2 linked regions of the Homo sapiens genome follow. The protein of the gene in region 1 purifies or fractionates together with the protein of each later gene. This does not show direct contact. Each region holds a gene or a part of one and is shown in the gene's direction. Other genes may lie near its edges. The genes, in order: CELA1 and CEP164.

Region 1 (4,389 bases):
ACAAAAGCCCTGGGTGGGCAGGTGATGGTCCTGCTTCTGTCTAGGTTCCTGGCTTCTCCCTGCCTAATTCCAAACCCCATGCGTTGCTACCATGACTGCTGCACCCACAGTCCTCTGCTCTGGAGCCTGCAGTGGCTCTGATCATTTTGTGGCCAACCCAAGGGTCCTCTGCCCACCTCAAGGCACATTGCAACTCTTTTCTCTCTCTATTTATTTATTTATTTATTTATTTATTTATTTATTTATTTATTTATTTTGAGACAGAGTCTTGCTCTGTCTCCAGGCTGGAGTGCAGCAACCTCCGCTTCCCAGGTTGAAGCGATTCTCCTGCCTCAGCCTCCAGATTAGCTGGGACTGCAGAAGCGCACCACCATGCCCAGCTAATTTTTGTATTTTGTTTTTGTTTTTTTTTAGATGGAGTCTCGCTCTGTCGCCCAGGTTGGAGTGCAGTGGCGCGATCTCGGCTCACTGCAAGCTCCGCCTCCCGGGCTCACGCCATTCTCCTGCCTGCGCCTCCCGAGGAGCTGGGACTACAGGCGCCTGCCACCACGCCCAGCTAATTTTTTGTATTTTTTTAGTAGAGACGGGGTTTCACTGTGTTAGCCAGAGTAGTCTCAATCTCCTGACCTCGTGATCCGCCCGCCTCCGACTCCCAAAGTGCTGGGATTACAGGCATGAGCCACCGCGCCCGGCCAATTTTTGTATTTTTAGTAGACGGGGTTTCGCCATGTTGGCCAGGATGGTCTCGATCTCTTGATCTTGTGATCCGCCCGCCTCAGCCTCCCAAAGTGCTGGGATTACAGGCGTAAACCACCGCGCCCGGCCGCAACTCCCTTCTCTCTCCTCTACGAACTGTGATGAACAAAGCCTTTCATCTCCTGCAGGAACCTCGGCTCCTACCCTCGTTCTCCCTCTGCCCTCCACCCTCCATCTACCCTCATAGCCCTCAGACTGTCTTCACATCCCAAGGATCCCCTCCTCTACCCTGCCTCATATTCTCCTCTGGGAGCCCCTTCTTGGCTCTCCATCTGAGAGGGCCCAAGCCTGTTTCTCAGTACTTTCCTCCCCCAGAATTATCTCCACTGCATCTATTTGGCTTTTGTGTCTGCATTTACACCTATGCCTGCATCCTGGGGGCATGTGCCATCTCCCTCTTTGGGCAGAGAGAGTTGCTGTGTCTTCCTTGCCCTTGCTAACCACTCCCCCCTCTTCCACTATCCCCCTGGCCTCCAGCTGCTAGTGCACAGGGCAAGTCTCTGCATTTATGGTGCCACTGAGGACAACGAGAGAGTGATGGATGACAAGGGGTGCTCCCTTAGAGAAAAACCAGCCCTGGTTCTCCATCTTATTTCTGAAAAAGAGTTTGTTGGATGCTTTTCAATTAAAAGCAGATGATTAATTCAGCCCTGGCCTTGTTCTGTCTTTGAATAACAGATACATTAGTTTACTTGAAAAGAAATATTTTCATTTGTATTTCCATGTCACTTGTGATTTTCCCTGCCTTGCACCCTCAGCCCTGCCAGTTGGCAAGAAGACAGTCAGCTTTGCTGCTAAGAGGAGTATAAAGAGGGCTTGGTCCAAGCAAGAAGGCAGTGGTCTACTCCATCGGCAACATGCTGGTCCTTTATGGTAAGTGGATATGGTCCAGTCGCAACCCTGGTCCTTTATGGTAAGTGGATCATGTGGCCTGAGGTCTATAGGGAGGGGGACTTGGGCAGGAAGGTCAGCAAATTTTCCCTAAGTCCAGGCCAGCACCCTGTCCCAGGGCAGGTGGGACGCTCTGCCTGCAGAGCGTCCTTTACTCTCCTGGAGGCCAAGATAGAAAAGGTCAGGGCCACTGGCTATTCAGGCCCCTCTGGGTGGCAGGTCCCTGGGCCACAAAGCAGAGAGAAGCCCCATCTGGTAGTGGGGTGGGTCCCTGGGCTTCCCCACCACCCCCATTGACAGGAGGACTTCCTCAGCAGGTGCCTGGCTGGGGTGTGCACTGCAGGCCCTGAACCCTGGAGAATCTTGCCAAAGCATTAGGGGGCTGGTGGGGGTCAAAGAGTGGGGGGGGGTCTCTTCAGGCCAAAGGGTGATCTTGAGCAAAGAGGAGACCACAAGGAGCCTCTGGGGCCTAGCCTGGTGGTTTGAGAGAGGTCCTTCATAGCATGCCGGAGTTCTGGGAACACCTGGGGGAAACAGAAGGCACCCAGGCACCCCTGTTTTCAAAAGGGGCTCAGAGAACTCACAGCTGGGCCCCTCATTCGTTAGAGAGGAACTGTGAATTTGCAGACAAGGCTAACATTCCTCAAAGCACAATCGCCACCCCCCACCCCTACCCCTGGCTGACCCCATGCTTAGTCATCACTCACTTTTCTTCTGCCCCACAAAGGACACAGCACCCAGGACCTTCCGGAAACCAATGCCCGCGTAGTCGGAGGGACTGAGGCCGGGAGGAATTCCTGGCCCTCTCAGGTGGGTGTTCCTTCCCAGCCCCAGACTTCCACCCAAATAAGAGCTCAGTGCATGACATAAGGTATCATGTGTATTTGTGCATGTCCCTATCAACAAGCAGCTCTCCAATTGTCTAGGTTCTCGATTTTAAAGATGGATGGGATCAGGCTTAGGTGGTTTTCTAAATGCAAAAGGCTTGGAGGAGGGGATTTATACACCAACCACAGTCCCTCTTCAAGGCACACACCCAAACACAAGATACATTTATATTCTCAGCGACAGCACTTGTGCCACGCAAGAAAGACTGGGTGCCAGACAGTCACCTTGGACTCCACATACCTTGAAACTCACACGCACACCACTCCACACTGTGTGTGTCACAATGCTTGCACGCATGTGCGCGCACACACACACACACACACGTACAGCATGCTGCTTAGTTGGCTATTTAGAGTTTCCACTTTGCTAACAGGGCAGCTGGGCCCTGATTTAAGTGATCTAAATATGTAAACCTGGCAAATTAACTGATGAAGATCCACACTTTGAGAAGATATCACTGCAATCAGAGTTTTAGCTTATAAAAGTCTGAGCCCCAGTTTTCAGGAGTAGAGCTATTACATAACATGAGGTGCTAGAAGAAGAGACATGAACTGATAAAAACAAACATCCTATTGGTATTTTTTTTTTTTTGAGATGGAGTTTTGCTCTCATTGCCCAGGCTAGAGTGCAATGGCATGATCTCGGCTCACTGCAAACTCTGCCTCCTGGGTTCAAGCAGTTCTCCTGCGTCAGCCTCCTGAGTAGCTGGGATTACAGGCGCCTGTCACCATGCCCAGCTAATTTTTGTATTTTTAGTAGAGACGGGGTTTCACCATGTTGGCCAGGCTGGTCTCAAACTCCTGACCTCAGGTGATCCACCCGCCTCAGCCTCCCAAAGTGCTGGGATTACAGGCATGAGCCACAGCGCCTGGCCTCCCATTGGTATTTCTAAGTAGTCCCTGAAGTGGGGAGACAGGAGATGTCTTGAAAACACTAAAGGTACAGCTCTGGAGACCTAAGCCTGTTGGGCTTAGGTGATGGAGCAAATCTTTGCCTATAGTTCCTCTTTTTTGGGGGAGGAGAGGGGGCGATGGAGTCTCGCTCTGTCACCAGGCTGCAGTGCAGTGACGCTATCTCAGCTCACTGTAACCTCCACCTCCTGGGTTCAAGCAATTCTCCTGCCTCAGCCTCCTGAGTAGCTGGGACTACAGGTGCATGCCACCACGCCCGACTAATTTTTGCATTTTTAGTAGAGATGGGGTTTCACCATGTTGGCCAGGATGGTCTTGATCTCCTGACCTGGTGATCCACCCGCCTTGGCCTCCCAATGTGCTAGGATCACAGGCGTGAGCCATGGTGCCTGGCCTATAGTTCCTCTTTAAGGGAGAACAGAGGTAGAAGGAGTTCCAAAAAAGGAGTTACAATGGGTTCTAGGTCCATTGCAACAACCTAGAGAGATAATGCCAAATACACTGTGTGCCTTTACTCCTCCATCCATGTACACAGCAAACATCACCAAGCGATGGAGCATCCCTTCCTGCTGGCCCCAGAAGCATCTACACACCCCTTATCAATGCCACACTCCAGGTGGCCACTACCAAGCAATCAGTAGCAATTGGCAGGTCAGATGAAACCTATTTGCCATCTCTAGCCTAGAAAGAGAATGTTTTGAAGGACAGCAGGACTTTAAGGAGGTGACATGTAGTTTGAGGCAAAGTCTTTTATATTTAATTATTTTTGACGTTGTAGAGGCGAGGTCTCACTATGTTGCCCAGGCTGGTCTCCAGCTCCTAGGCTCAACTGATCCTCCTGCCTCAGCCTTCCAAAGTTCTGGGATTACTGGCATGAGCCACTGCAACCGACCTGGGGCAAAACCATTTGAGAAACACCAACCTATCCCTTCTTTCTTTCCTC
Region 2 (3,812 bases), on another chromosome or scaffold:
AATGATACTCTGTCTCAAAAAAAAAGCAAAGAAAAAGTGATTACTTAATGTCTGAATGGCCTTAACTTATATTGCCTGGTGCTGGATATGTCCTTTGGAGCAAGGTAGAATAAACCCTTTTAAATAGGTGAATAGCAGTCATAATAATGTAATGTCTAACATTTATTGAGACCTTAGTATATTTTAAGCACTTTACATGTATTGAATCATATAAGCCTCACAACACATTGTGATGGATATTGTTAGTACTCTCATTTTATAGATGAGAAAACTGAGGCTGTCCAGCTAGTAAGAGGCAGAGCTGGGATTGAAAGCCAAGAATGTTCCAAAGCTTTTGCTCATTACCACTGCGTAATCAACTCTGACATCTTCCACCTTCTCCCCTTTACCTTCTCCAGTCAATCTTTTCTGTGGTCAACCTTCTTTGTAATTGTTGGAGCAGGGTGGAAGAAATAAATATACAGAGAACCCTCATTATGTCTGTGAGTGTATATTCTCTGTTAGTGTGCAGATGTGCAAAACTCTAGCTATGCTGACAAAGTACAGGGCAAGGTAGCCACAATATTGAAGGACTGGGAAACGATATGTACTGAATGGAAGAGAACTGGGAATACTTAGCCTACCTTAGCTAGAGAATCCTAGGGTGTCCCCAGATGAGCAGAAGGCAGACTTGAGATACCAGGGAACATTTTTTTAGAACCTGATTATTGGCTTACTATTAGACCTTCTAATAGTTAAGAATTATCTAACTATGGAATTGAAAATAGAATCTGTAATACTAGCTAAATTTGTGTAACTTTTCTGTATACAGGGACTGTGCTAGGCACTTTATAAGTGTTGTTTCATTTTACTTTCAGGCTTTTTGATTTTTGTTAAGATTGTTTTAATTATACACATGCAGTTATTGAGGCTGAGAGAGGTGAAGCACCTTGCCTAAGGTCATACAGCTGCTAAGTGAGAGAGCTGGGATTTGAATCCAGGTCTTCTGTCTCCAAAGCTGGTACTTTGACCACTATGCCGCCTGTCACTGGAAGCACAGAGAGGAAAATTTTGGCATGGGAAGGAAGGTGGACCAAAACTACTGCGGGTCTTCCTAGCTTCTGAGATTGCTGGTGTATTTTTTTTTTTTTTCAGATAGGGTCTCACTCTGTTGCCCAGGCTGGAGTATGGTGGTACAATCATAGCTCACTGCAGCCTCGAACTCCTGGTCTCAAGTGATCCTCCCACCTCTGCCTCCCCACTTTACACTCTTTATGTAACTCTGTCTTCCTTTCCATCTGATCACATAGCTCCTGCCTCAGCCTTCCGAGTAGCTGGGACCACAGGTGCACGCCACCATGCCTGGCTAATATATATATATATATATATATTTGTGGAGACAGGGTCTTACTATATTGCTCAGGCTGGTCTTGAGCTTCTAGGCTCAAGTGATCCTAGGCCTTGGTCCCCCATAGTATTGGGATTACCGGTGTGAGCCACAACACCCGGCCTATTCCTTGGTTTTATATTAGCAGTTACAGCAGTAACTGAGCTCCGACAGCTTACATAGGCTTATTTTAGGCTTTGTTGGAAAATTCCAGAGGAGGAGACATGGCCCTCAGAAGTTTGTGGTTTAACAGGAGAGGTAAGAAGACACATTTTCATAAAAAAAGTAATATTGGCCAGGCACGGTGGCTCACGCCTGTAATCCCAGCACTTTGGGAGGCCGAGGCGGGTGGATCACCTGAGGATAGGAGGTCGAGACCAGCCTGACCAACATGGAGAAACTGCATCTCCACTAAAAAAATACAGAATTAGCCAGGCGTGGTGGCACATACCTGTAATCCCAGCTACTCAGGAGGCTGAGGCAGGAGAATCGCTTGAACCCAGGAGGCGGAGGTTGCAGTGAGCCGAGATCGCACCATTGCACTCCAGCCTGGGCAACAAGAGCGAAACTCCTCTGTCTCAAAAAGAAAGAAAGAAAAAATAATAATATTGAGAGAAATCTGTCTGGGAACACATGAAAATTATGAGCTCAGTGCTAAGGTGGTTCTGGGTTGACAGGAGAGGATAAAATTGGCTGGGAAGGCTTCCTGGAGGAAACGTGTGAGCCACTCCTTTTTTGCCTGATTCTGAGATTGGTAGGAGATGCATGAGTGCAGTTGGGTGACCCCTCCTAACTCTGGCTCACAGAAGGTCTCAGGCTAGGCAGCAAGTAGATCTCACTGGATTTCATCTCATCTATTGGTAACTGCTACGTAGTGAACAATGTTGAGGGTTCTGAGGCCATGTCTAGGGTGCCATAATTGACTAGTGATGTCCTTCACAGTTTTAGGCCTGGAGGAAAATAGTAGGACATGTCCTATTTGTTTGCCATGGCAGATCTAAGGGCTGCATTCTCATTTATTGATTTATTTTAGAGACAGGTCTTGCCCTGTCACCCAGGCTGGAGTGCAGTGGTGTTATCATAGCTCACTGTAGCCTTGAACTCCTGGGCTCAAGGGATCCTCCCACCTGAGCCCCCCAAGTAGCTGGGACTACAGGTGTGTGTCACCATGCATGGCTGATATTTTTAATTTTTTGTAGAGACGGTCTCACTATGTTGACCCAGCTAGTCTCAAACTCCTGGCTTCAAGTGATCCTCCTGCTTTAGCCTCCCAAAGCCCTGTTATTACAGGTGTGAGCCACAGTGCTTGGCCCAAGGGCTGCATTCTTAGACTTCTCATCCTCTGTTACCACTCCAACTCAGGTTACCATTGCCTCTTACCTAGCCTAGCTCATGGTTTTCTACCTTATTTCTCTGCATCAGCCCTGATTTTCTTCTTTCCAATCTGGCCTCCGCTTTAGGGTGTACTCCTAGTAGCTTCTGGAGTAGTTTTTCAAAATGTGTATCTGGAAAAACTATTTCCTGGCTTCCATTCCTCTCTCTTTTTTGAGACAGGGTCTTGCTCTGTCACTGAGCCTGGAGTGTGGTGGCACAATCAAGGCTCACTGCAGCCTTGACCACCTGGGCTCAAGTGATCCTCCCGCCTCAGTCTCCCCTGTAGCTGGGACTACAGGTATACACCACCATACCTGGCTAATTTTTAATTTTTTTTGTACAGGGTAAGACAGGGTCGTCTTATGTTGCTCACGGTGGTCTTGAACTCCTGGGCTCAAGCGATCCTCCTGCTTTGGCCTCCCAAAGTGCTGAGATTGCAGGTGTGAGCCACTGTGCCCAGCCCTAGTTCTGTTATGATAAAGGGCAAGTCTGCATGGCCTGGCTCCCACTGGCCTCCCCAGCATCCTATCCAACTGTGCTGCTTCTTGCCTCGTGTTGCCTTCTGCTGAAGGACTTTTGCATGCATCTGTTAGAACACGCTTTCCTTTTTTTCTTTGTCTAGTGAATACCTACTCATCATTCAGTTCTCAGTGTAGGCATCATCTAAATCAGGCTTATTTCCTTCAGAGCACTTCCCTCGGTTCTAATTATACATTTCTCTGTGACTGATTGGTTTGTCTCCCTCCCTTCCCAGACGAGCTCAAGAGTAGCAGCAGCTGAATCTGTTTTTAATCACGATTGCATCTCTAGCGCCTAGAAATAAATGCACGTGGTAGGTGCCCAATAAATATTCCTCGAGTGAGTAGATGATCTTTAGTAGCCATCCTGCTACTACATACAGACAAATAGATATGACTTCTGTTCCCACGTTCCTTTTTTCTTTAACTCATTGGCCTTTTGGACCTGTCCTTGCCCACATCTTTTCTAGAGCCTGATAAGGTAAGGAAAGAAGGTAGAATACAACCCACCCATATTTTAATTTTTTTCTGGCAGAACATTTATTTGAATTTGG

What was found.
Region 2: the proteins of CELA1 (region 1) and CEP164 purify together in Homo sapiens (affinity purification with mass spectrometry; 2 studies listed by BioGRID and IntAct, with this or other methods). This does not show direct contact.

Annotation. Positions count from the first base shown.
Region 1 is NC_000012.12:51,343,863-51,348,251, reverse strand, and holds the start of CELA1 (chymotrypsin-like elastase family member 1), read left to right. Parts: upstream 1-1,572; 5' UTR 1,573-1,613; coding exon 1,614-1,629; intron 1,630-2,374; coding exon 2,375-2,457; intron 2,458-4,389. UniProt on the Homo sapiens protein: Serine proteases that hydrolyze many proteins in addition to elastin.
Region 2 is NC_000011.10:117,330,634-117,334,445, forward strand, and holds part of CEP164 (centrosomal protein of 164 kDa), read left to right. Parts: intron 1-3,812. UniProt on the Homo sapiens protein: Plays a role in microtubule organization and/or maintenance for the formation of primary cilia (PC), a microtubule-based structure that protrudes from the surface of epithelial cells. Plays a critical role in G2/M checkpoint and nuclear divisions.